Linked DNA regions of Homo sapiens: regions 2 and 3 are each linked to region 1. The links come from fine-mapping of genetic effects on gene expression. A gene starts in region 1. Each other region holds a variant in brackets. All regions are shown on one strand. Distances are between the middles of the regions.

What was found. PIP is the estimated chance that this variant, and not a neighbour inherited with it, causes the effect.
Region 2: its variant is the best candidate, but not a certain one, in a credible set for the expression of FTSJ3 in whole blood (INTERVAL, PIP 0.63).
Region 3: its variant is the best candidate, but not a certain one, in a credible set for the expression of FTSJ3 in whole blood (TOPMed, PIP 0.63).

Annotation. Positions count from the first base shown.
Region 1 is chr17:63,824,427-63,832,230 of GRCh38, reverse strand. It overlaps FTSJ3 (FtsJ RNA 2'-O-methyltransferase 3), which reads left to right and starts at 4,568. Exons shown (of 21, transcript NM_017647.4): 1 at 4,568-5,179; 2 at 5,303-5,395; 3 at 5,559-5,664; 4 at 5,927-5,973; 5 at 6,096-6,175; 6 at 6,596-6,695; 7 at 6,795-6,989; 8 at 7,068-7,183; 9 at 7,302-7,406; 10 at 7,494-7,594. The coding sequence starts at 5,329. PSMC5 (proteasome 26S subunit, ATPase 5) reads right to left here and starts at 4,800. Exons shown (of 12, transcript NM_002805.6): 1 at 4,717-4,800; 2 at 4,022-4,093; 3 at 2,668-2,737; 4 at 2,282-2,379; 5 at 2,042-2,098; 6 at 1,730-1,960; 7 at 1,296-1,422; 8 at 1,005-1,195; 9 at 806-904; 10 at 615-725; 11 at 421-507; 12 at 212-315. The coding sequence starts at 4,740. The coding sequence ends at 262. It overlaps SMARCD2 (SWI/SNF related BAF chromatin remodeling complex subunit D2), which reads left to right. Exons shown (of 13, transcript NM_001098426.2): 13 at 1-150. RefSeq lists enhancers at 4,410-4,459, 4,840-5,119, 4,256-5,455.
Region 2 is chr17:63,843,972-63,855,073 of GRCh38, reverse strand. No RefSeq gene overlaps it. Among named protein-coding and RNA genes, the nearest start is that of SMARCD2, 6.8 kb to the right of the region's middle. RefSeq lists a silencer at 2,251-2,545 and a cis regulatory region at 10,398-10,787. The variant T/C (reference allele first, on the strand shown) is at 5,123.
Region 3 is chr17:63,754,416-63,759,415 of GRCh38, reverse strand. CCDC47 (coiled-coil domain containing 47) reads left to right here. Exons shown (of 13, transcript NM_020198.3): 7 at 2,846-2,947; 8 at 3,066-3,176; 9 at 4,898-4,983. Among named protein-coding and RNA genes, the nearest start is that of STRADA, 15 kb to the right of the region's middle. The variant G/A (reference allele first, on the strand shown) is at 2,981.

The sequences.
Region 1 (7,804 bases):
TGTGCATGTGGAGGCCAGGGTAAGGTGAATGGGGAGGCTGGGAGGACTGGTGTTGCCCTTTGGAGCTTGGTGAGGAGGGTGGGCCTAGGGCTTGGCGAGTGCCACATCTGGCAGGTTTGGAAATTTCCAAATAAATCCTTTTGTCTATTGGTGGTGCCTGGACCTGGTCCTTGAACAGCACAGCCCTCATTAACAGACTGGAGTCCTAGAGGACTTGGCCCACAGAGCTTTATTGGAGAGATACACACAAAGGCTGTCCACTCACTTCCATAATTTCTTGATGGACATGTTTTTCTCACTGTCCTTCTGCATGACCTAGGGGTGGGAGAGAGAATGAACATTAAGTTACGAACACACACATGCCCTAGCCCACTGCCCCAGAGCCACCACTGGCAAAGGCACAAAGATGGAGGCCTATACCTTGGCTACTGCCATCTCAAAGTCCTCCTGAGTGACATGGACTCGCCGTTCTCGCAGGGCATACATGCCAGCTTCTGTGCACACGCCCTGAACAGGAAAAGGAAATTGAGGCCCCACTGCTGTGCCCCTCATCTGTGGCCCTTGAGCCCAGAGCTTCCTGCCTCTGCCCTGTTTTCAGTGGGTACTCCAATTACCTTCACTTCAGCCCCTGATGCTCCTGGCATGAGCTCAGCAATTTTTCTCAGGTTGATCCCCCGGGTCAGGTTCATCTTCCGAGAATGAATCTTCAAAATGTCCAGCCGGGCCTGGAGATGGCAAGGAAAAGCCTGAGCCCCACACCCCACCCCCACAGCCAGAGCCACTTTGCACAGTGTCCATCACAAACCTCCTCATTGGGGGGTGGGAATTCAATTTTTCTGTCAATGCGCCCTGGGCGAAGCAGTGCCGAGTCCAGGATATCAATCCTATTAGTAGCCATGATAACCTGAGCAGAGAAAGCAAGTGGGGATCAGCTAAACCTCTTCCTCAGCCTGCGTGGCACCCAGGCCTTCCCTGGGCCCATCCCAAGGATGCTACCACCTTACCTTGATGTTCTTGGTGGCCTCAAAGCCGTCGAGCTGGTTGAGCAACTCCAGCATCGTGCGCTGCACTTCACTGTCCCCTCCAGAACCCCCCTCCAGCCGCGAGGAGCCGATGGAGTCGATTTCGTCCATGAAGATGATAGATGGAGCATGTTCCCGTGCCATGACAAACAGCTCCCTCACCATTCTTGCCCCTGTGTGGAGGCCGAGCTGGTGTTAGGGAGCTTATTAGCTTATTAGCTCTCTAACCCCCTACCCCTACCTCTTGCTTCTCACATTGCTAGCCATGGTTACCTTCCCCTATGAATTTCTGTACCAGTTCAGAGCCAGAGACACGAATAAAGGTACAGTCCGTATGATGAGCCACAGCCCGGGCCAACAGTGTCTTCCCAGTGCCTGGAGGTCCATACAGCAGCACTCCCTACAGGGGAACAGCAGGACTCAGGGCAGAAAGCTACACCCCTCATTTCATTCAGTGAACATTTACCGAGTGCTGGGTCCCTTGCTAGATGTTAGGGATACAAAAAAAAAAAAGGAACATCAAGGTCCCTTCTATCCAAACCACCTCACCGCCCTAGGAACACTTCCCCAGCCACTCTTTTCAGGGGGAGGGCCAGCCCAAGCAAGATGCAGCCTATCCCGGTGCCTCCCCAACCCCTGCAGTAGGGCTGGCTGGGGCAGGAGGAGTAAGTACAGCTTGGCCCTCTCAGAGAAGCCCTGCTCCTCACCTTGGGCTGAGCAATGCCCAGTGCTTCGAAGAGCTCAGGATGCTTAACAGGCAGCTCGATCACTTCTTTGATCTCCTTGATCTGTTTGTCCAGTCCACCAATCATCTCATAAGTTGAATCTGGTACTTTCTCCACCATCATCAGTGACACTAATGGGTCTACCTTGTTGGGCAGGATCTTGTGCAGAGTGTAGCTGTCATTCCTTAGAGCCACCCGGCAATTGGGTGTCACCTGGGTGAAGGGGGCGAGTTTCAGAAGTGGTACAGTAAGAGCTGACCCCACCACCACCACCACCTCACCTGCTACACTCACATCATTGATGTCAATGTTTTTGTCCACGTCTACAACAAATTTACCTTCAGGATGTACCTAAAGAAACAAGGGCTCATGACCTTCCTTGACAGCCACCAAATCACTAATCCTACCCAGGAAGACCTATGAGAATCCCACAATACCTTGACAGAACACAGAACCCTGTCTCCCGAGGCTACACACAAAGGGGTGGGAATGCAGTGGAGACCGAGCTGGTCCCTGGGGTCATGCTGCTTTTACCTTGACCAACACTTTCTTCTTATCCATGGCCCGGACTACTTCCCCCACATAGGAGCCCTGCTCCTGCAGCAGCTGTAGCTCCTCCCGCAATAGGCGAACTAGATGGCAAACAGACACAGTGGTCACCTAGCTACTCCTTTGGAGTCTCCAGGACCCAATTCTACGTGCATGAGCTAAGCATCACTCTTATTAAAGGAAGGCCAAAGGTCAAAATTCATGTATTTAAGGAGGCTACAATAGGGCTCAGGAAAAAGAGATGCATGTGAAACTACTAGATGATGACAGGGAGAAAACAGTAAGCACTGCTGTGAAGACACAGTGCAGGGAGATAAGGACAGACCTCAGACAAACTGCCCACATGCGGCTTCCCATCTTTCTCCACTCACCTTTAGCATTTAGTTCGTTCCTCTGTGCCTGCAGCCTCCGGAGGTTTTGGCTCTTATCATTCACAATCAGCTGTGGCAGACAAGAGACAAATTCCATTATTCAAGGGCAGGAGACAGGAGGAGGTAGGATCTTGGCCAAGACCTCACAGGTCTGAATGAGCTGAGGGAAGGGCACAGGGCACCTGCATGTTGTTTCAGATTCTCCAGTATGATCCTAATGACCCTGCCCTGTCCTTCAAGAGTCCCTCTGGACCTTACAGCAGCCATCAAAGAAGGCTGCTTGTCCAATACTGGTCCAGGAGTAACAGAATCTAATGGAGAAAAGTTACAGCTGGCTCATGTAACACCAAATTTCTTGCAGGAAGGCAACAACACCTGGTGGAAAGATTGTTAGGTGAGAAACCTGAGTTCTAGCCCAGCCGCTGTCAATCAAAAGCAAAGTAAAGGTAAGACAATCTATTTTTAAAAATCTAGATCTGTTACCAAACGGCACATGGGTATAGCATCAGCTACCCTGCTTCAAGACTACTAAGGTGAACGAATAAAAACACATGAAAAAGCATTCAAAAATGGTAAACTAAACATAATACCTGCAAATGCACTTGGAATTCAGAATTGTCTTTTGTGGCTTTCCCCCATCCAATTTATATTACAGTTGACACTTGAACAACGCAGGGGGTTAGGGTGAAATTGAAAATCCATGGACCTGTCCAAAGTTAAACTACTAACAGCCTACCGTAACAGTATAACGTAACACTAACAGACTACTGTTTATGTTGTCTGTAAGGCTTACTACTGGAAGCCATACCTTACTGCTGGAAGCCTTACTGGTAACACAAACATTTGATTAACAACATAAACGGTCCTTTTTCTATGGTTTAGCGCTTTAGGCTAGGGCTCTGGGTTGCCCAATTTCTTTCATTCAGTCTCTATGGAATTAGCATTGTCCAGATCCCTCAATGATGCCCTTCCTCACATTCTCACTTCACCCTCACCCAACCTCTTGGTGATAAATTTCAACTCCTGAGCTTATGTTTCCCTTTTATAAGAATCCTTTTCATTCGGGCTTCTTCCAAAAGGGTTGACCTTTGGCTAGAGGTACCTTTACTATTAAGATTTGACTCGAAGATGTGTAACAAACTGTGAACACTAAGACCCTCAAAGAGATGGGACTGGAGGAGAACAAGAGATTGCTTACTTCTGATACATACACCCTACTAGCTAAGAAACAAACAAGAAAGGAGAAGCAGCAGCTTCTTCCACTGCACTCCCAAAGGAATTAGATGGATTTGTGGAAGTCCGTTTCCATCCCCCATCATCACCCTTCCTAGCTCCCTCTGGAGTCCGTCCTCACCTGGAGTTCTTCAATCTTGGACAGATAATATTGGCGGAGTCCGCTGCCTGCCTTCCCCTCCTCCAGCTCCATCTGAAGACACAGAGTGAGTCTTAAACGACAGGTTAAACATCCGAGGGGGTAAAGCCACTTGCAGGGCACTTTGAATAAGGCTTGACACCAGGTAGCTTTGCGTAGTAGAAAAAGTTTGGACTTCGGAGGCTCAGGATCTGGGTTCTAATCCCTCCCTCCCTTGGAACCCTCCATTTTCCCAGGACTAAAATAAAAGAATGGGAACGCCGCCTACCTCATACGACTTTTAGGAGGACCGAGAGGCGATATGATATAGACGGGGGGCGCTTTGCACTGCGTGAAGTGCTCTACAAGCCCGAGGTGTCAGTACTGACGAAGGAGCCAGCGGAACGGAGCCAAAGGACTGGCGTCCCGTCTCCTGCGACCCGTGGGCCGGCCATTCCCGCGCCCATCGCTTCCCTCACTCACTCCGCTTCTACCGCGTCTTCCTCTCCCAGCCTTGCCCTGACTCACCGAGGGCGGCGCTGACACAGCAGATCCGGTCGCAGGCAGCGTCCAGCATGGACTGGTCCAGGCACCTCCGACCCACCCGACGCTCCTGCCCCGGCCCGCTCTCCACTCAGATCACGCTCGCTCCGCACCCAGCCCCGTAACCTGCCGGGCCGCCACTGCACCCGCCATACCTGCTCTGGTCCGTCAAGCGCCATCTTCTCTCTTCAGCAGAGACCGCCGGCATCCGAGCCGTCTTGGCGCGCAAGCGCGGAAGCGGAGGATTGGGACCTGAAGACCAGGCAGAGAAGAATTCCGGGTCAATGGGCGGGGTGTGCGGCGAGACCACACTAAGGGAACCATGATGGGAGGGGCGGCTACTCGAGTTCAGGGGCTTTGGAAGGGGATGAGGAAGGAGTAGAACTCCTCCTCAGTGTTGCCTCATTGAAACTCTGTTTATAGTTCTTGTGATATGCCTTCCTAGTCTCAACTTTCAACTTACAAAACCCAAGGACAGAGTATTGAGAACAATCTAGGGCCACACTCAAAATGGCGGAAAACCTCGAGCCAGGGACGCAGGGGACGCAAGCGGAAGCGGAAGTAGTTAGCTGCATACTTGTGCGGTTCCAAGTGTGGAGAAAGCGGCTCTGGGTCTAGGTAGTGTGCGGAGAGGGGCGCGGGGTGGAATTGCTGCGGGAAGTGGGAAACTGGAAGTGGGAAACTGGAAGTGGAATCTGGTGCTCCGGAAAGAGACGTTCCCAACTTCTACTTTCTCCCCAGATTGAGGGATACTCCCCCTTTCCACCATGGGCAAGAAGGGCAAAGTTGGCAAGAGCCGACGAGACAAGTTTTATCACTTGGCGAAGGAGACGGGTGAGTCCGGATTCGCTCAGTCTGCGAGCGAGCGAGCGATCTCTGCCCGGTTCGCCTGCTCTTTGCGACCATTATGTACCTCTCCTGCAGAAGGGGTGGTCGGTTGCGAGGCCGGAGAAATCCTACTAGTGAAGCAGTTTGCGCACTTGGTTGTTTTGTCCAGGTTACCGTTCCCGATCTGCTTTCAAGCTGATCCAGCTCAATCGCCGCTTTCAGTTCCTGCAGAAAGCCCGAGCCTTGCTGGACCTGTGTGCTGCGCCAGGGGGATGGTTCGTAACACTCGCCACAGGTTGCTCCTGGTGGCCGCTTTCTGGGTTCTGAGCTGGGATGGCTTCCAGTTTCACTGCGGGAGGGGAACCCGAATCCCGGTCCTCTTGGGGGCCGTTTCCTTTCTTGATTGCAGAGAAAGGGCTTGGAATACGTGCCTATGATATGCTTTGGCCAGTACACGTAACACCAGGGATGAGAGATCAGTTGCCAAGAGGGGGAAAAGGATGGCTCTAGGTTTTTAAATTTCTGTTCCTTTTATAGGCTGCAGGTAGCTGCCAAGTTTATGCCTGTATCCAGCCTTATTGTGGGTGAGTAACGGACAGCTCTCCTTGGTGTTTTAAGGGGTGGGTGTATAAGGTATTTTGTCCTGTATTTCTCTCCTCCCTGCTTGAAGCAACCTTTTAGAATACTCTGACCTGATTTCTTCCAGGAGTGGACCTGGTTCCAATCAAGCCTCTCCCCAATGTGGTGACTCTCCAGCAGGACATCACAACAGAACGTTGTAGGCAGGTAATAGGAGTCTCTCTCTTCCTTCCCCCTTTATACGGAAACATCTACATCCCTGAAATCCTCTAAAGGCAAGTTTTTCCTTTTTACCGTGCTTTGAGCACGTTCTTGCCTGACATCTGTACGACAAGACCTATGGCATTCGTAGTGTCCACTCCAGGCTTTATTTAGAGTCAGGGATAAAGGTGTTTGGAATTGGGAGAAGGGCAGAGATCTTTAGTGAAGTCTTCTCCTGTGAATTCAGTGTCAGACTGTAATCTCCATGAAGGTAGAGACATACTGTTTTTGTTTACTATTGTATCTCCTGTGCCTGGTACTGCATTTGGCCCATGATGGGCACTCAGCAAATGACTAGATGGACAAATGGCTGAACCAGGGCCATTCCAGTGTTTCTGTTTCCATAGTTCCTTTTCTTCTCTTTAGGCCCTGAGGAAGGAGCTGAAGACCTGGAAGGTTGATGTTGTGCTCAATGATGGGGCCCCCAACGTTGGGGCTAGCTGGGTCCATGATGCTTACTCACAAGGTACAGGGAGTGTGGTGCTTGGAGATCAGGTGATGGTGGAGGTGGGCGCATGCCCTCCTGGGCTGCAGAGTGCGTCAACTAATTGTCTCTATCCTACAGCCCATTTGACACTGATGGCTCTACGTTTGGCTTGTGACTTTTTGGCCCGTGGTGGCAGCTTCATCACAAAGGTTTTCCGTTCTCGTGACTATCAGCCTCTGCTATGGATCTTTCAGCAGCTGTTCCGCCGTGTCCAGGCCACCAAGCCCCAAGCCTCTCGCCATGAATCTGCAGAGATCTTTGTAGTCTGCCAAGGTGGGCATCATTTCCTTTCTCTTGATCCAGGCTCCCAACTCCCAAAGCACACTTTTTAATATATCCTGTCATTTTTAGGATTCCTGGCCCCTGACAAGGTTGACAGTAAATTCTTTGACCCCAAATTTGCCTTTAAGGAGGTTGAAGTTCAGGCTAAGACCGTTACTGAATTGGTTACTAAGAAGAAGCCAAAGGTGTGTTTTGGGGAATGGGGTCACTCTTGGGTCCTGGAACTCTAGGGAGGTTGGGCCTGGTGGGTCCTACAGGTACCTTAGAAGGGCCTGACCAAGCTTCTCTCTTTTCCTTCCTAAGGCTGAAGGCTATGCTGAGGGTGACCTCACTCTCTATCACCGTACCTCAGTCACTGACTTCCTCCGAGCTGCCAACCCTGTTGACTTCCTCTCCAAGGCCAGCGAAGTGAGTCTCCAGCCTTGAGGGACATGAGGTAGCCCCAGAAACATGGCCTGAGGATCTCCCCTGACACCTTTCCATCCTCCCAAACAGATCATGGTAGATGATGAAGAGTTGGCACAGCATCCAGCTACCACTGAGGACATACGGGTGTGCTGTCAGGACATCAGAGTGTTGGGGCGCAAGGAGCTCAGGTATGGAGTGGGGTAGGCACGGGGGCCAGGAGCCCTGGAGGCAGGGAAAGGCCATGATGTTGGACCTCTGGGAAGAGGATATTGCTGTGCTAAAGGTTTGGGATGGGGGCCTGAGCCTTTTGATTTATGTAGCCGAAGCCCGAAAGGTGGGTAGTGAGCCTAAAACAGAAGGGGGCGGGGACAAAGAGGGAGATGGCAAGATCAGTAATA
Region 2 (11,102 bases), 21 kb before region 1:
ACTAGTGTTATCCCAAATACAAGCCAGAGACCGTAACGATTCTGTGTCCTAGTGATCCAAGAGACAGGAATCTTTCCCCCGGGTCCAGATGAATGAACACTGAAGTGTCACCCCACTCAGGACTCCCCACCCCCTTCCTCACTGACCAGCTACCTGTGTCCTGACACATACTGGTTTAAAAAGCTTTCCCGAATAGCCTCACCTGGGCAAAGGATCAAGGCCAGCAGGGTCCAGACACCAAACAGAAGCGTTTTCATCCTGATAAGAAGGGCCAAAGGCTGGAGAGAAAAAGACAGCAATGCTGGAGAAAGTGACCAAAAATATATATATAAGGAAAATTGCTTATTTGATATTAAAACTCAGTCCCTTTTTCTGAAACCTCACTAGTCTAGAAAAATTACAGCAAAAACATCAGCAGTGAAGGTGTACTAAAAGAATGTCTTATATCTATTTATTTCAGTTTAGCTTATGTGCATAGCAAAAACATGGGGGAAAATATGAAAAAGGATGAGGCGATATTATCAAGATTCCTGTATAAGTTGTATTCTACTTACCTTTTTACTAGTTTGCCTCCATCTATTAGACTGAGTCAATAGAAGGGTGCTGGCATGGAAACATGAAAAACTGAGTTTAGACTGGGCACGGTGGCTCATACTTGTAATCCCAGCACTTTGGGAGGCTGAGGCGGGTGGATCACCTGAGGTAGGAGTTTCAGGCCAGCCTGGCCAACATGGTGAAACCCCGTCTCTACTAAAAAAATACAAAATTAGTCGGGCGTGGTGGTGGGTGCCTATAATCCCAGCTACTCGGGAGGCTGAGGCGGGAGAATCACTTGAACTCAGGAGGCGGAGGTTGCAGTGAGCCGAGATCATGCGACTGCACTCCAGCCTGGGTGACAGAGTGAGACTCCATCTCAAAAAAATAAAACAAAACAAAAACTCATTCAAGCTAATTTCTTCTAAGAAAGGCTTCTTGACTAGCCTTATCCCACTTCACAGTCCCTTACTTGTTATACATGATCTCTACCTCACTTTATGCCAAACAAGATTTCTGAAGTTGCATATATTAGTTCACTTTGGTGAATTATTTCAGTGATGTAATCATCACTATACTAGAAATTCCTTGAGGGTAAGAGGCTCTAGTGTACTTATCTTGTGTCTCCAGCACCTAGCACAGAGCCTATGATATTCTGGGTATTCCATAAATGAAGGACTACCCTCCAATTTTGTATTTAATTTTCATACAGTGGGTTTGGAACAGGTCTAACTCCACTTCTATGCTGGTCTGAAAGAGTTTTTTTTTTTAATACAGGGATAACAGGCATATGAAAATTTATACTCCCAAGTGAAGGTTACCCTTCAAAATAACCACTTTGGAAGGCTATCATCTTTTTCCAGGATGACACAATTATTCAAAACCTTTTTTGAAATTATTTATTTATATATTGAGACAGGGTCTTGCTTTGTTGCCCAGGCTGAAGTGCAGTGGTATGATCACAGCTTGCTGCAGCCTCAAATTCCTGGGCTCAAGCAATCCTCCCACCTCAGTCTCTTGAGTCGCAGGGACTACAAGCACACACCACCACACCCAGATAATTTTTTTATTAATGTTTTTGTAGAGACAGGGGTCTCACTATGTTGTCCAGGCTAATCTTGAACTACTGGCCTCCAGTGATCCTTACACCTAAGCCTCCCAAGGTTCTGGGATTACAGGCATAAGCCACCATGCCCAGCCTGAAAGTAATTTAGAACTGGCTTTTAAGCCATATAAGAAAAATTAAGCTGGGTGCGGTGACTCATGCCTATAATCCCAGCATTTTGGGACACCAAAGTGGGAGAATTGCTTGAGCCCACTGGTTTGAGAGCAACCTAGGCAACATAGCAAGACCCCTGTCTCTACAAAAAAATTAAAGAATTAGCCAGGTGTGGTTATGCTCACCTGTAGTGCTAGCTACCTGTGAGGCTGAGGTGGGAGGATCACTTGAGCCAAAGAGTTTGAGGCTGCAGTGAGCCATGACCACACCTCTGTACTCCCAGCCTGGGCAACAGAGGAAGACCTTGTCATAAATAAATAAATAAATAAATAAAGCAAGCTCTCCTCTTTGTTACCGAACCAAACCAGGTCGGTCTGTCCACGTGCAATGTAAAGCCAAACACTGAAGCACCAGACTTTTTATTGCAAGGTGGCTGAGCAAGAAGACAGGCTCAAATATGTCTCTTCAATCTGGAGTCTGGAACAAATTTTAAGTGTGAGGGAGGACACGGGCATAGGTGGAAGTGCTGGCAGGACAGGTTTTGATCCGAAGGACTTCAAACAGTACCACTTATGGTAAGATATGGTAAAGGGTCTTATCACTGGACGTTCCTGGGCTTGGACCCGTTGCTTTTGAAAGTGTTCCTGTGCTCATATTCCAGCCATGTCCCAATCTTTTGGTTCTGTTGAGGGGCAAGACTTTAGTTCCCGGGTTATTTGAGGTTAAAGTCTCCCTTTCTGCACATGTTCTGACTGTAATGACTTGCAACTTCTTGGCTCTGTGCCGGTAAAATAACTTGATACCCCATTATTAGCGGAGTAGAACCAGTTAGAACTAATCCAGCAGTTACACTCTCCAATGTGTAGGTCTTATGATGTTTAAATCTATAACATGAATCCAGATTATTTGTGCTTTAATGGGGCCACAGTGTCACAAACAATTCCTCTTAGAGATTAATCCAAGAACTCCTGCTTTACTCTTCTCTGTAGCTTGCTGATGTTACGTTCTTTTTTTGTTGTTGTTGATGGTTTTTTTTTTTTTTTTTTTGAGACGAAGTCTCACTCTGTCGCCCAGGCTGGAGTGCAATGGCGCAATCTCCGCTCACTGCAAGCTCCGCCTCCCGGGTTCACGCCATTCTCCTGCCTCAGCCTCCCAAGTAGCTGGGACTACAGGTGCCCACCACCACACCCGGCTAATTTTTTGTATTTTTAGTAGAATGGGGTTTCACGATGTTCGCCAGGATGGTCTTGATCTCCTGACCTTGTGAACGGCCTGCCTCGGCCTCCCAAAGTGCTGGGATTACAGGTGTGAGCCACCGCGCCCGGCCTCTTTTTTTTTTTTTTTTTTTCCTGAGATGGGGTCTCACTCAGTTATCCAGGCTAGAGTGCAGTGGTGTGATCATAGCTCACCGCAGCCTCAGACTCCTGGGTTCAAGCAGTCCTCCCATCTAGGCATTCCAAAATGCTGGGATTACAGGTGTGAGCCACTGCACCTGACCTGATGTTACCTTCTGCTACATAGCCTAGCACTGCTGTCAATTTTTTTTTTTTTTTGCGACAGAGTCTTGCTCTGTCGCCCAGGCTGGAGTGCAGTGGTGCAATCTCTGCTCACTGCAACCTCCACCTCCCTGGTTCAAGCGATTCTGCCTCAGCCTCCTGAGGAGCTGGGACTACAGGCATGTGCCACCCCGCCCAGCTAATTTTGTTTGTATTTTTAGAGAGATGAGGTTTCCCTGTGTTAGCCAGGATTGTCTTGATCTCCTGACCTCATGATCCACCCACCTCGGCCTCCCAAAGTGCTGGGATTACAGGCGTGAGCCACCATGCCCGGCTGCACTGCTGTCAGTTTATCTCAGAGACTATGTTCTGCTTTTACAGTCTTAGCAAAAAAACGAAAAAAAAAAAATTCCCATTGCTCATTACTATAAGCCAAGCTAATCGGTTTTTCTTTGTAGTTGCTACTAGTATTATCTCTATGCCTGTAAAGAGTCTTAAGAAAAAACAGTCCTGGGCGAGTTGTTTTTGTTTTCATACCCATATACAGACACATACTTTGTTCTTTGTTGTTTCATGCCCTGCCCTCACCCCACTATCCCCATAGCTCCAATCTTTCATCCTTGTTTTCACATAGCACATTATGATCAGGTTCTGAAACACAAAATTTTGTATTTATCTTGCTAAGGAGAAAGAAAGCAGTAACCCCAAGGAGAAATTATTTTTAATTTATTTTGGAATTCCTTTTGCTTATTCTGTGGATTATATCCCAAATTAGAAATTTAAACTGAGGCTGGGAGCGGTGGCTCATGCCTGTAATCCCAGGACTTTGGGAGGCCGAGGCAGGCAGATTACCTGAGGTCAGGAATTCAAGACCAGCCTGGCCAACATGGTGAAACACTGTCTCTACTAAAAATACAAAAATTAGCTGGACGTGGTGGTGGGCGCCTGTAATTCCAGCTACTCAGGAGGCTGAGGCAGGAGAATTGCTTGAACCTGGGAGGCAGAGGTTGCAGTGAGCCAAGACTGCGCCACTGCATTCCAGAGCGAAACTCTGTCTCAAAAAAAAAAAATGGTTTAAACTGTCTGAAAGTCTTGGCCTGCACTCCAGTCACTGGGAGGTCTTTTGCAGGAGAGGGGTAGGCAGTGAGAGGAGGGTGGGGACGCATGCTGTTGGATTGCTTTGGCCGCGCGTGTGAACTAAACTTCGCGTCCAAGTCTGGGATTCTCGCCTTCCATTCATAGTCAGTGGTTTCTTGCTGCCCTTCCTTCCTCCCTCCCTCCCTCCTCCCTTCCTTCCTTCCTCCCTCCCTCTCTCCCTCTCCCTTCCCTCCCTGCCTCCTTCCTTCCTTCCCTCCCTCCCTCCCTTCCCTCCCTCCTTCTTTCTTTCTTGCCTTCCATTCATATTTTCATATTCAAGGGTTTCTTGCTGTTTTCTATCTTTTCTCTTCTTTCTTTCCTTTTTTTTTTTTTTTTTTTGAGACGGAGTTTGCTCTTGTTGCCCAGACTGGAGTGCAATGGCCCCATCTCCGCTCACTGCAACCTCCGCCTCCCGGATTCAAGCGATTCTCCTGCCTCAGCCTCCCAAGTAGCTGGAATTACAGGCACGCACCACCTTGCCTGGCTAATTTTTGTAGTTTTGGTAGAGATAGGGTTTCACCGTGTTGGCCAGGCTGGTCTCGAACCCCTGACCTCAAGTGATCCGCCCACCTTGACCTCCCAAAATGCTGGGATTACAGGCGTGAACCACCATGCCCGGCCGCTGTTCCTTATAAATACAAGTCACACTGGGCCTCTGCACTCTCTCGTCCATCAGCCTGGAATTATCTTCCTTCTCCCCAAACACTCCTCTATCCAGTTCAGTCTCTTTGTAATG[T/C]GGCCTGCGCTGACCTCGGGCTTCCCAGCCCTCCCTGCCCACGCCCCTCACCGCAGCACCCCCCGCATGCCTACCGCTTTCCCTTCCGCAGCACTATCGCCCTCTAACACCCTGTCACTTACTGATGAGACCTGAAATCAGCGGCTCTGTCTCCCCTGGACTGTAAGTCCCAAGGAAGGCAGGGCCCTTGGTTTTATTCACTCATGGATCCCAAGCACCTGGAACGTTACAGGCGTTCAACGACCACAAAGGAACAAGTGAATGCACGAACCAACGCACTAGATAGATGGGTACCAATCCTTGTGTGAGGGCCACTGCCCCCCACGTGGATACCGGACACCAGGCCAGCTCTTGCTGGCAAGGGGCCTCGGGTCCAGCGGAGAGAGGGGCGAGGACACCGCGTGGCCATCAAGGCTCTTCCAGGAGGACGATCCCTAACACACGTGAGAACGCGTTCAAAAGGCAGTTCCACCCGGCTTCTCCGGGCTTCCGGCGACGGCCAAGGAAAACACGACCGAAATCCTCACCGAGCCGCGGCCGCCCGCTCGCACGCCCCTCGCCCTCGCCGGGCCGCTCCTCACGGCTTCAGCCTCCGCTCCTCGGCCTCGCCCGCTCCGCTCTCAGTCGCCCGCCAAGCGCTCAGACCGTTTGTTCTACACCGCCAGGCGGGGGCGCGCGAGGGTGCGGCCGGAGAGCGGTTTTCCTGATCTGCCTAGAAACTCGTGACGCCCACGCGAAAGCTCAGCAGGGTTGGCTGAGATGAGAGGGGCGAGCAGGAAGCTACAACGACGGGAGGGGAGCGCGGGGAAGATGAGGGTGGGGAAGGCTGAAACCTGTGGGGCAGAAAGCGCGTGTTTGGCGCCGCATAACCACTTCTGAATAACGCAATGTGGAAACAAAAGGAAAGGGATCGTTTGCAGCAAAGCTCGGCTGTATGAGGAAAACAAGAGGTTGTTCTCCCCTGTGGCTGTTGTTTTCGTGGTGCGGCCCGGACACGTGAGCCGGCCCGCGTCTCAGAGAGTTGCGCGCGAAGCCACGTTCCCGCCTTGGACATCCCGGCTCGCTTGGCCGAGCTTGCGGCCTCTGCTGGCTGCTCCCTGGCGGGCTGGGAGATGTATTTGGCGGAGTTTTGACAATGGATAATTTGCAAAAAGTCTTGTTTTTTTGTTTTGAAACAGAGTCTCGCTCTGTCGCCAGGCTGGCCTGCAGTGGCACGATCTCAGCCCACTGCAACCTCTGCCTCCTGGGTTCAAGCGATTCTCCTGCCTCAGCCTCCCGAGTAGCTGGGACTACAGGCATGCGCCACCACGTCCAACTAATTTTTGTAATTTTAGTAGAGACGTGGTTTCACCACGTTGGTCAGGCTGGTCTCAAACTCCTGACCTCAGGTGATCCGTCTTGGGATTACAGGCATGAGCCACTGCGCCCGGCCCAAAGCCCACTTCTTATATGCTGATATCTGCACTGCTGGAGTGCAGTGGCGCGATCTCTGCTCACTGCAAGTCTGTACTCTTCAGGCATTTTACCGCTAGACTGTGCTGTGACAGTATGTGTGTTGAGAACTGTGACCACAATGTGCTCACAGAAGAGGAGCTCTCCCTTACATTCAGTGATCTGGCAACTCTCACTCTGATTCTCCTCATCCTGTACAGCTTCATGCCTTTGACTCTTACTGTGTCTTCTTTGCTTAACTCACCTGTTACCTCCTCCAAGAAGTCTTCATTAATCCCTTTCCCTCATTAAAGGCCTCCTTGTTTCCCCATGGTACCTTGTGAATACTTTTATCTTAGCAGTTGTCATGTGGGGAAATGACCTGTTTATGCATTTATCTTCTTTACCAGCATATGTCAGGGACTGGCACATAGAAGTTGCTCAATAAATGCTTCTCAAATGCTGCGTACAGCACCTGCTACATTATCTTGGCATCCAGTCCTTCTGCTGCCCTGACTGTCCCTTCCTCTCCCTACTCTGCATCCATGTGGGAGATGGACACTTAGCTGCCGGGGTGCTCCAGCTGGGACAGGCTCTGATACAGCTCCGCCAGTGCTGCCATCTTGGTAAACATTTCCCACCATGACCAGACTATCCACATTGCTTCTCATGAAATTCCAACCCCCTGAAGGACATCCATACTGAGGAATGTTCCTTTGCTGGCCTGCTCTAGGGCAAGCACTGGGCCACCTTGCTCCAAGGGCCTTTCTCCAAGCTACTTGGTGGGTGCTACTTTCATGCAGCTGGGCAAGGAGCCAAAATTCCCAGAGTCTGTGCTGGGAATTGTCCCATTGGCTCTGGTTGTATTAAATACTTTATTATTAAATAGTTTGTTAAATACTTTTTAGTTCCATTTAGTCTCTTTGAGTATCTGTAGATGTTAACAGGGCCTCAAGGTTATAGGAAAGTCCCTCCTCTAAACTGTAAGCCTGGGACCATACAAGGGCTCAATAAAAGTTGTTGAATGAAGTCCATGAAAAGTGGGCACTGAGCAGAATAAGTATCAAGGGAGGAAGAGAAACAGACATTCCAAGCTGAGGGAACAAAGGCAGGGGAATATTGCCTCCACTTCAAAGTGTTCCAGGAAACTTCGATTAATCAGGGCCTATCAATCAACTTCTTTTTCTCTGAGTGTCTATGACACTTGCATTTCAGTTTTTTGTTTTTGTGTTTTCCAGACACAACATCTCACTCTGTAGCCCTAGCTGGAGTGCAGTGGCATGATCAGAGCTCACTGCAGCCTCAAACTCCTGGGCTTAAGTGATCCTCCTGCCTCAGCCTCCCAAGTAGCTGGGACCACAGGCACCCACCATCACACTCTGCAAATTTTTTCATTTTCTTGTAGAGACAGGGTCTCACCATGTTGCCTGGTCTGGTCTTGAACCCCTCAAGCAATCCTCCCACCTCAGCTCCCAAAGTGCTGGATGAGTCACCTGCCCAGCCTCACTTTTCAGTTTTAACAGTTTCTTTGCAAGTAATAACAGACCAGACACACAGCTACCAAAAATCGGTGGTAAGTAATGGTTAGTCCCTAGACTGGATTCTAGAGCCAGATCAGAAACAGGTTTGATGAATCCTAGCACCATCACAGTGAGGGTGGGCAAGTGACTGGATCTCCATGCTTTGATTTCTCAAACAGAGATAGAGCCAGGCATAGAGGCTGGTGTCTGTAGTCCCAGGTACTCGGGAGTTTTTAGAGGTTGGAGGATTGCTTGAGCCCAGGAGTTTGAGGCCCCATTAGTCAAGCTATGATCATGCCACTGCACTCTAGCCTGGGCAACAGAGTGAGACCCCAACTCTTTAAAAAAAAAAAAAGAGGTAAAAATAGTGTGTACCTCATATATGGTATCTACCTCCTATGTGTTGTGATGATTAAATGAGCTAATTCACGTAGAAAATGCTCAGTAAATGTTACCTATTCTCTGCCTACTGTGTAGGAAATCTTCCTTTTATCTCTACCATGCCTCAGATATCTCTATTTGCTCCCTAACACCTTAAGGATATTTTATCATAACACAGTTAACTCATTGTTTATATTATCTGATATATCTGATATTAACTGATATTATATTATTGTTTATCATTCCCTCCCACTACACTCAAACATTGTCTGTTCATACATATTTGTTAAGTTACAACAGGGATCAAGGGAGACACAGTATATACCCCAAATAACTGAAAACAGGTACTCAAATACAAATATATATTCATAGCAGCACTACTTGGAATAGCCAAGAAGTAGAAGTAGCCCTACTGCGCATCAACAGATAAATGGATAGGGCCAGGCATGGTGGTTCATGCCTATAATCCTAGCACTCTGGGAGGCCAAGGCAGGAGGATCACTTGAGCTAAGGAGTTTGAAATCAGCCTGGGCAACACAGCGAGATGCTGTCATAAACAAATAAATACAAAGACAAACAGATGAACACATTGTGTTATATACATACAATGGAATATTATTCAGCCATAAGAAGAAAGGAAGTACTGATACATGCTACAAAATGGATGAACCTCAAAAACATTATGCTAAGTGAAGGAAGCCATGCCCAACACCCACCTATTATGATTCCATTTATATGAAGTATCCAGAATAGATAAATCTAGAGACAGAACCCAGATTGGTGGGTGCCAGAAGTTGGGAAGAGGAAGAAATGAGGAGCAACTTCTAATGAGGATGGAGTTTTCTTTTGGGGTCATTATTTTGGACCCCAAAATTTTGGACCTAGGTAGAGGAGGTGTTGCACAACATTGTGAATGTAATATATACCACTGAATTGTGCAATTTCAAACAGTTAATTTTATTACGTAAATCTCACTTCAATTTAAAAAAATAGCCAGGTGTGGTGTATACCTACTCAGCTATTCAGGAACTATCACTTGAGCCCAGGGGTTTGAGGCCAGCCTGGGCAACCTAGCAAATCACTGTCTTAAAAAAATACAAATTTTAAAATAAAAAGATAAATTGAGAGAGAAAAAGATCCTGCCTTCGTAGAGTTTATATTTTAGTGGGTGAGCCACATCAGACAGTAAATCAGCACACACTTAAGTAATGATGTACTGTGATAATCACTTGGTGGGAAGTAGGGTGTGAGAGAACAGAGAGGCTCTGAGATGGGAAGGGGATGGGTAGTTTGAAAAACTGCAAGGAGACCATCTGGGCCAATGCTTGGAGAGCCAAAGGCAGTGATTTAAAATGAACCCAAGGAGGTAAGCAGGGACCAGGTCCTGCAGAGCCTTAAATGTCACAGGAGGGAGTGTGACATTCAATCTAAGAGCAATGGGGAGCTGGGGAGGGTTTTAAACAAGGGATTGACAGGAACTGAGTTATATTTAACCGTTTGATCTGCTTTATTATTATTGAGACAGTGTCTTACTCTGTCACCCAGGCTGGAGTGCAGTGGCACGATCTCTGCTCACTGCAACCACTGCCTCTTGGGTTCAAGCAATTCTCGTGCCTCAGCCTCCTGAGTAGCTGGGATTACAGGTGTGCACCACCACGCCCAGCTAATTTTTATATTTTTAGTAGAGACATGGTTTCACCATCTTGGCCAGACTGGTCTCGAACTCCTGACTTCAAGTGATCCACTCACCTTGGCCTCCCAAAGTGCTGGGATTACAGGTGTGAGCCACTCCACCCAGCTGATCTGCTTTTAAATGCACTTATTAGCTTGCCCCTTTTCTAGGGTAGAAAAAATCTTGTGTTTTCTGATGCGACCCACTGGGTCGCATCAGAATTACCTAGGAAGCTTATTTTTCAAATACAATACTGAGAGCCATTGGATTGGAGGGGTGGCTGGCGGAGGTATTTTGGAGTAGCTTCCCAGAGGACTCTGATTCTCCACTGCCCCTATCACTTTGAGAATTACTGTTGTTCTAGAAGCTTAAAAGGATTGAAATGGATATTAGCTGCCTTATCATGAACTCTTAACCCACTTTACAGGGATGGGAGGGGCCATGATTCAGTGACTTTAACAATTCCAGTGGCCAGTCCCCAGACTGACAGGTTATCGACTCTTGGGGCAATAGAGTGGGATCTCTAAGTTCAGGAGGTAAGAAAACAGCAGCAGCGGTGTTTATCACTAGAGGCATGAGGAGAACTAATTTCTAAAAAGCACTGGAGAACTATACTGTAAAAAAGATCTGGGGTGCTATGATGCAAGGAAGGAAGTATTACTTGGTTGGGGCTGGAAAAATAAAGCAATTATAGTAAAAAAACTAAAAAAAAAAAAAAGTCTAGATCCCGGCTTCTTGACAGTGTGGTCTGAGAAGCAACAGCATCGCTGGCAGCTTGTTACAAATGCAGAGTCCTGGGCCCTGCCACAATCTGCATTTTTAATAAGAGCCTCGAGTGTTTTTTATGTGCTCATTAAAGTTTAAGCAGCACTGGTCCATATCACGGCGAGGAGATCCAGACCATCAGAGGGTAGGCTCCCTGGCACAGCTGACGCATTTTTGAATACTTTGATACAGCACAGTGTACCTGAAAAGA
Region 3 (5,000 bases), 71 kb after region 1:
CAGGGTTCAAGCGATTTTCCTGCCTCAGCCTCCCAAGCAGTTGAGATTACAGGCGCCTGCCACCATGCCCAGCTAATTTTTGTATTTTTAGTAGAGACGGGGTTTCACCATGTTGGTCAGGCTGGTCTCGAACTTCTGACCTCAGGTGATCCACCCGCCTCAGCCTCCCAAAGTGCTGGGATTACAGGCAAGAGTCACTGCACCCAGCCCCACTGTTATATTTTAAAGATCTCATTTTTACTTGTAAACCTGTATTTTTATTTCAGTTTTTCTAACATGGCCATGATGACTTAGTCCACTAAAATTTAGAACCCTATCAGTTAATATTTCTGTCATCCTTTCTCCCACAAACTGCCATCTTATTAGGAGGAAAGTTTGCTGTATCCTCAGCCATCTTTTTGTAAAAATTATTCTTTAAAAGTGTTTTAATCATTTTCAGTTCTCATTCCCTCTCTCTCTCTCTCCTCCTGCTAAGAGAAATTGCTTCAACAAATATGTGGCTCTTTATATTTTATTTGCCCCTTTTTTTGGAATTCTGTTTAAGGTTTGCTTTGTGTAATTTCCCATCAATGATGGAAGAGCAGAAAACGTTTTCTTTTACAGCTGCCATCTTACCAGTTCTTTTCCTATATTAACATTTTCCTTCTTCCATATACTAAAAATTATTTCACCCAAGCATTTAAAGATGTAATTAATATAACAAATATATCATATCAGACTCTTTTAGGCTTATAATTTTTTATCTTTCTGGCCCAGAGTACTAGTAACTGTTTACTTGTCTGGACTGTTTTCCAATACAAACAGCCAATTCTCAGATTCTCTGTATACCAACTGGGTATCCCACAATTGAATTCAATAATAATAATAATTCTTTTTAATTTTGTAAATTTAAATTTTTTTTTTTTCTAGAGACCGAGATTTGCTATGTTGCCCAGGCAGTTCATGTTGCCCTGTCCTTAAGTGATCCTCTCACCTGGGCCTCCCAAAGTGCTGGGATTACAGGCATGAGCCACTGTGCCCAGCCTCAATTCAGTTCTGACACTATCTACCTGGAGTTAGCTTCAAATCCTACAGATTAAAGGGCTCAGCCCCACAAGACTGCCCCACTTCAGATGCAGTCGAATGTCCCAGGTTACCCATACTACCATCTGGACTTCTGACCAACTAACTATTAATCGGGTTCCTATGACCTCCCCACTCAACCAATAATTTGTTAGAATGGCTCATAGAACTTGAAAAGACACTTATATTTACTGGTTTATTATAAGGGATAAAACTCAGGAGTAGCCAAATGAAAGAAAGACACAGGAAGAAACAGGGTTGGGAGTCGTTCGGAGCTTTCATGCCCTCCCTGAGCACACCACCCTCCCAGCAGGTTGATGTGTTCACCAGCTTGGAAGCTCTCTAAATCTTGTTCAAGAGTTTTTGTAGAACTCAATTTCGTCCTCCCTCTCTTTCACGGAGGTAAGGGCAAGGCTGAAGGTCTCTACCCTCTAAGCACTTGGTTTTTCTGGTTATCGGCACCATCCTGAGGCTAACTAGGGTCTATGTTAAGTCACCCCATTAGAATAAACTCAGGTGTGATTAAAAGGGGCTCAGTATAAGTAACAAAAGATACTCTTGTTATTCAGGAAATTCAAAGGGCTTTAGGAGCTCTGTGCCTGAAACCTGGGATAAAAACCAAATATATTTCAGTTTATTCCACATTATTCCATTTAGGTTTTGTTTATTTTTTATTTTTGGACTTGAGTGCTCCTGTGTGAAGTATTGAGTGTATTCGTGTTCTATTACTACATAGCAAATTACCCAAGTGTAGCAGCTTAAAACAACCCTCATTTATTATGTTACCGTTTCTGCAGGTCAGAAGTGCAGCATGTATTGAGTGGGTCCTCTAGGGTTTTAACAGGCTGAAATCAAGATGTCATTCAGGTTAGAGTTCTCTGAAGCTTAGGGTCCTCTTAATGTCATTTGGGTTGTTGGCAGAATTCAGTTCCTTGTGGGTGTAGGTTCCTGTTTTCTTTTCCTTTTTTTTTTTTTTTAATTTTTTTTGAGACAGGGTCTTGCTCTGTCACCTAGCATGGAGTGCACGATCATCACTTACTACAGCCTCCAGCTTCTGGGGCTCAATCGATCCTCCTGCCTCAGCCTCTTGAGTAGCTGGGACTACAGGCATGCATCACAATGCCTGGCTAATTTTTCTTTCTTTTTTTTTTTTTTTGTACAGATGGGGTCCCATTATGTTGCCTAGGCTGGTCTTGAACTCCTGGGCTCAAGCAGTCTTCCTCCTTTTGCCTCCTAAAGTGCTAGGATTACAGGTGTGAGCCACCATGCCTGGCCTTTTCTTTCTTTTTTAGAGATCGGGTCTGGTCTCAAACTCCTGACATCAAGCAGTCATGCCTCAGCCTCCCAGGTAGCTAGGCTTAAAGGCACGAACTACTGTAGTCCCTATTTTCTTGCTAGCTGTCAACTGGGAACCACTCAGTTCCTAAAGGCCACCCTTAGGTCTTTACCATATGTGCCCTACCGCCAACCTTCCCATAAGCCCTTTCATATTTTGACTTTCTTCTTCAAGTAGGGCTATAGTCCCTTTTAAGGACTTGCTTGATTAAGTTGGATACACCCAAGATAATGTCCCTTTTGGTTAATTCACAGTCAGCTGATTAGGGACCTTCTGCCATAAAACAGCCTGATTATGGGGGTAATATTCCATCATATTTGCAAATCCCAATCACTTAAAGGGAGAGTATATGCACCAGCGGGGAGGGAATCTTAAGGGTCATTTAGAAATCTGCCTATCACAGAACCTAACAGGTGAATTTTGTTGTTTTTTACATTTTTTTAAAAGCAAATAAAAGTAACCATGAATGATGAAGACATGGATACCTACGTATTTGCTGTTGGCACACGGAAAGCCTTGGTGCGACTACAGAAAGAGATGCAGGATTTGGTATGTCAGGTTGCTCCAACTCAAATATACGTA[G/A]AACTGTGTCTCCTTAGCACACACATATTCAGCTTCATTGCATAATAAAAGGTCATATCTTACTTTCAATTACTTCTTCCTCTAGAGTGAGTTTTGTAGTGATAAACCTAAGTCTGGAGCAAAGTATGGACTGCCGGACTCTTTGGCCATCCTGTCAGAGATGGGAGAAGTCACAGACGGAATGATGGATACAAAGGTAAATGCGACAGAAGACATACATTTGCCAGGCCTTGGCATTTACAGGACACTCTCCCTAAAAGTCTCATTGTACAAGTTCATCATTTTATGGCAATGTATTAGTTTTACATTCCTTTCCCACACAAATATTAAAATACCTTCTTTAAGCAATAAATTAGCTTGTCAAAAGGACAATTTGATTAGTCAAGAAGTTCTCTAAATCAAGAGCAAATTGTTCCTGGGATTGCTAATGACTTTCAGGTTTTTTTTTGAAAAAGGAATATAGCTTCTAATCTTTTTCGTCATGTCATTTAGTCTTTTTTTTTTTTTTTTTTGAGCTCCAGTTTGTGTGGGAGAAGAGGGATGTGTAGAGAGCCCTCCTCCTTTGTTTTTAAAAAGATGGGGTCTTGAGATGTTGCCCAGGCTGGAGTGCAGTGGCTATTCATGTGTGTGATAGATCTCACTGCAGCATCAAAAACTTCTGGGCTCAAGTGTTCCTCCTGCCTCAGCAAGAGCCCACCATTGTGCCTGGCTGAGAGAGCCATTTCTTTCTATTGGTTGTGTAATGGTAACAGATCTTAGTATCATAAGAATACAGGATAACTCAGAGATGGTTATAAATGTAAGTTCAAGGTGACATGTTTATAAAGGATCCCCTGAAATTATTTTAGGTGTTATCTTTATGCTTTCATTCTTGTTTCGACCATTATTTTGAGAAATATTTTTAGCTGCTCGAAAAGAATCTTAATCATTGGTATGACTAAAAAGGAGTACTACTTTTTTTTTTTTTTTTTTTTTCTTAGTAGAGATGGGGTTTCGCTGTGTTGGCCAGGCTGGTCTGGAATTCCTGGCCTCAAGTGATCCACCCACCTTGGCCTCCCAAAGCGCTTGGATTACAGGCATGAGCCACTGCACCCAGCCTGGAGTACTACTTTAATTCTAAAGAGATTCCCTATCTTATTGAAATTTAATTTTTAAAAAGCTTTAGCCTTGTCCGCGCGCTGTGGTTCACACTTGTAATCTCAACACTTTGGGTGGCGGAGGCAGGAGAATCACTTGAGTCCAGGGATTCAGGACTAGCCTGGGCAACATAGTGAGACCCTGTCTCTACAATAAAAAAATTAGCCAGGTGTGGTTGTGTGTTCCTTTAGTCCCAGCTACTCAGGAGGCTGAGGCAGGAAGATCACTTGAGCCCAGGAGATTAAGGCTATGGTAAGCTATGATTGTGCCACTGCACTCTAGCCTGGGTAAGAGAGCAACACCTTGTCACAAAAAATAAATAAAAAGCAATGAACACGCTTTGGTCTTAATGAAGGACATTGTATAAAAGTAAGGATTGAAAGGTGAATTTCTTTTTTTTTTTTTTTCTTTTTTTTGAGACAGAGTGTTGCTCTGTCGCCCAGACCGGAGTACAGTGGCGTGGTCTCTGCTCACGGCAACCTCCACCTCCCGGGTTCAAACGCTTCTCGTGCCTCAGCCTCTTGGATAGCTGGGGTTACAGGCACATGCCACCATGCCCGGCTAATTTTTTTGTATTTTTAGTAGAGACGGTGTTTCACTGTGTTGGCCAGGCTGATCTCAAATTCTCAAACTCCTTGCCTCAAGTAATCCACCTGCCTCCCAAAGTGCGGGGATTACTGGTGTGAGCCGTTGCACCATCTCAAAGAGTGAATATCTTTAGGAAAAAAAGGGAAATGCATTAAACCTTGCTTTTAAAAAATATTATTTTCTTTTTTTCAGATGGTTCACTTTCTTACACACTATGCTGACAAGATTGAATCTGTTCATTTTTCAGACCAGTTCTCTGGTCCAAAAATTATGCAAGAGTACGTATAAGATAAAA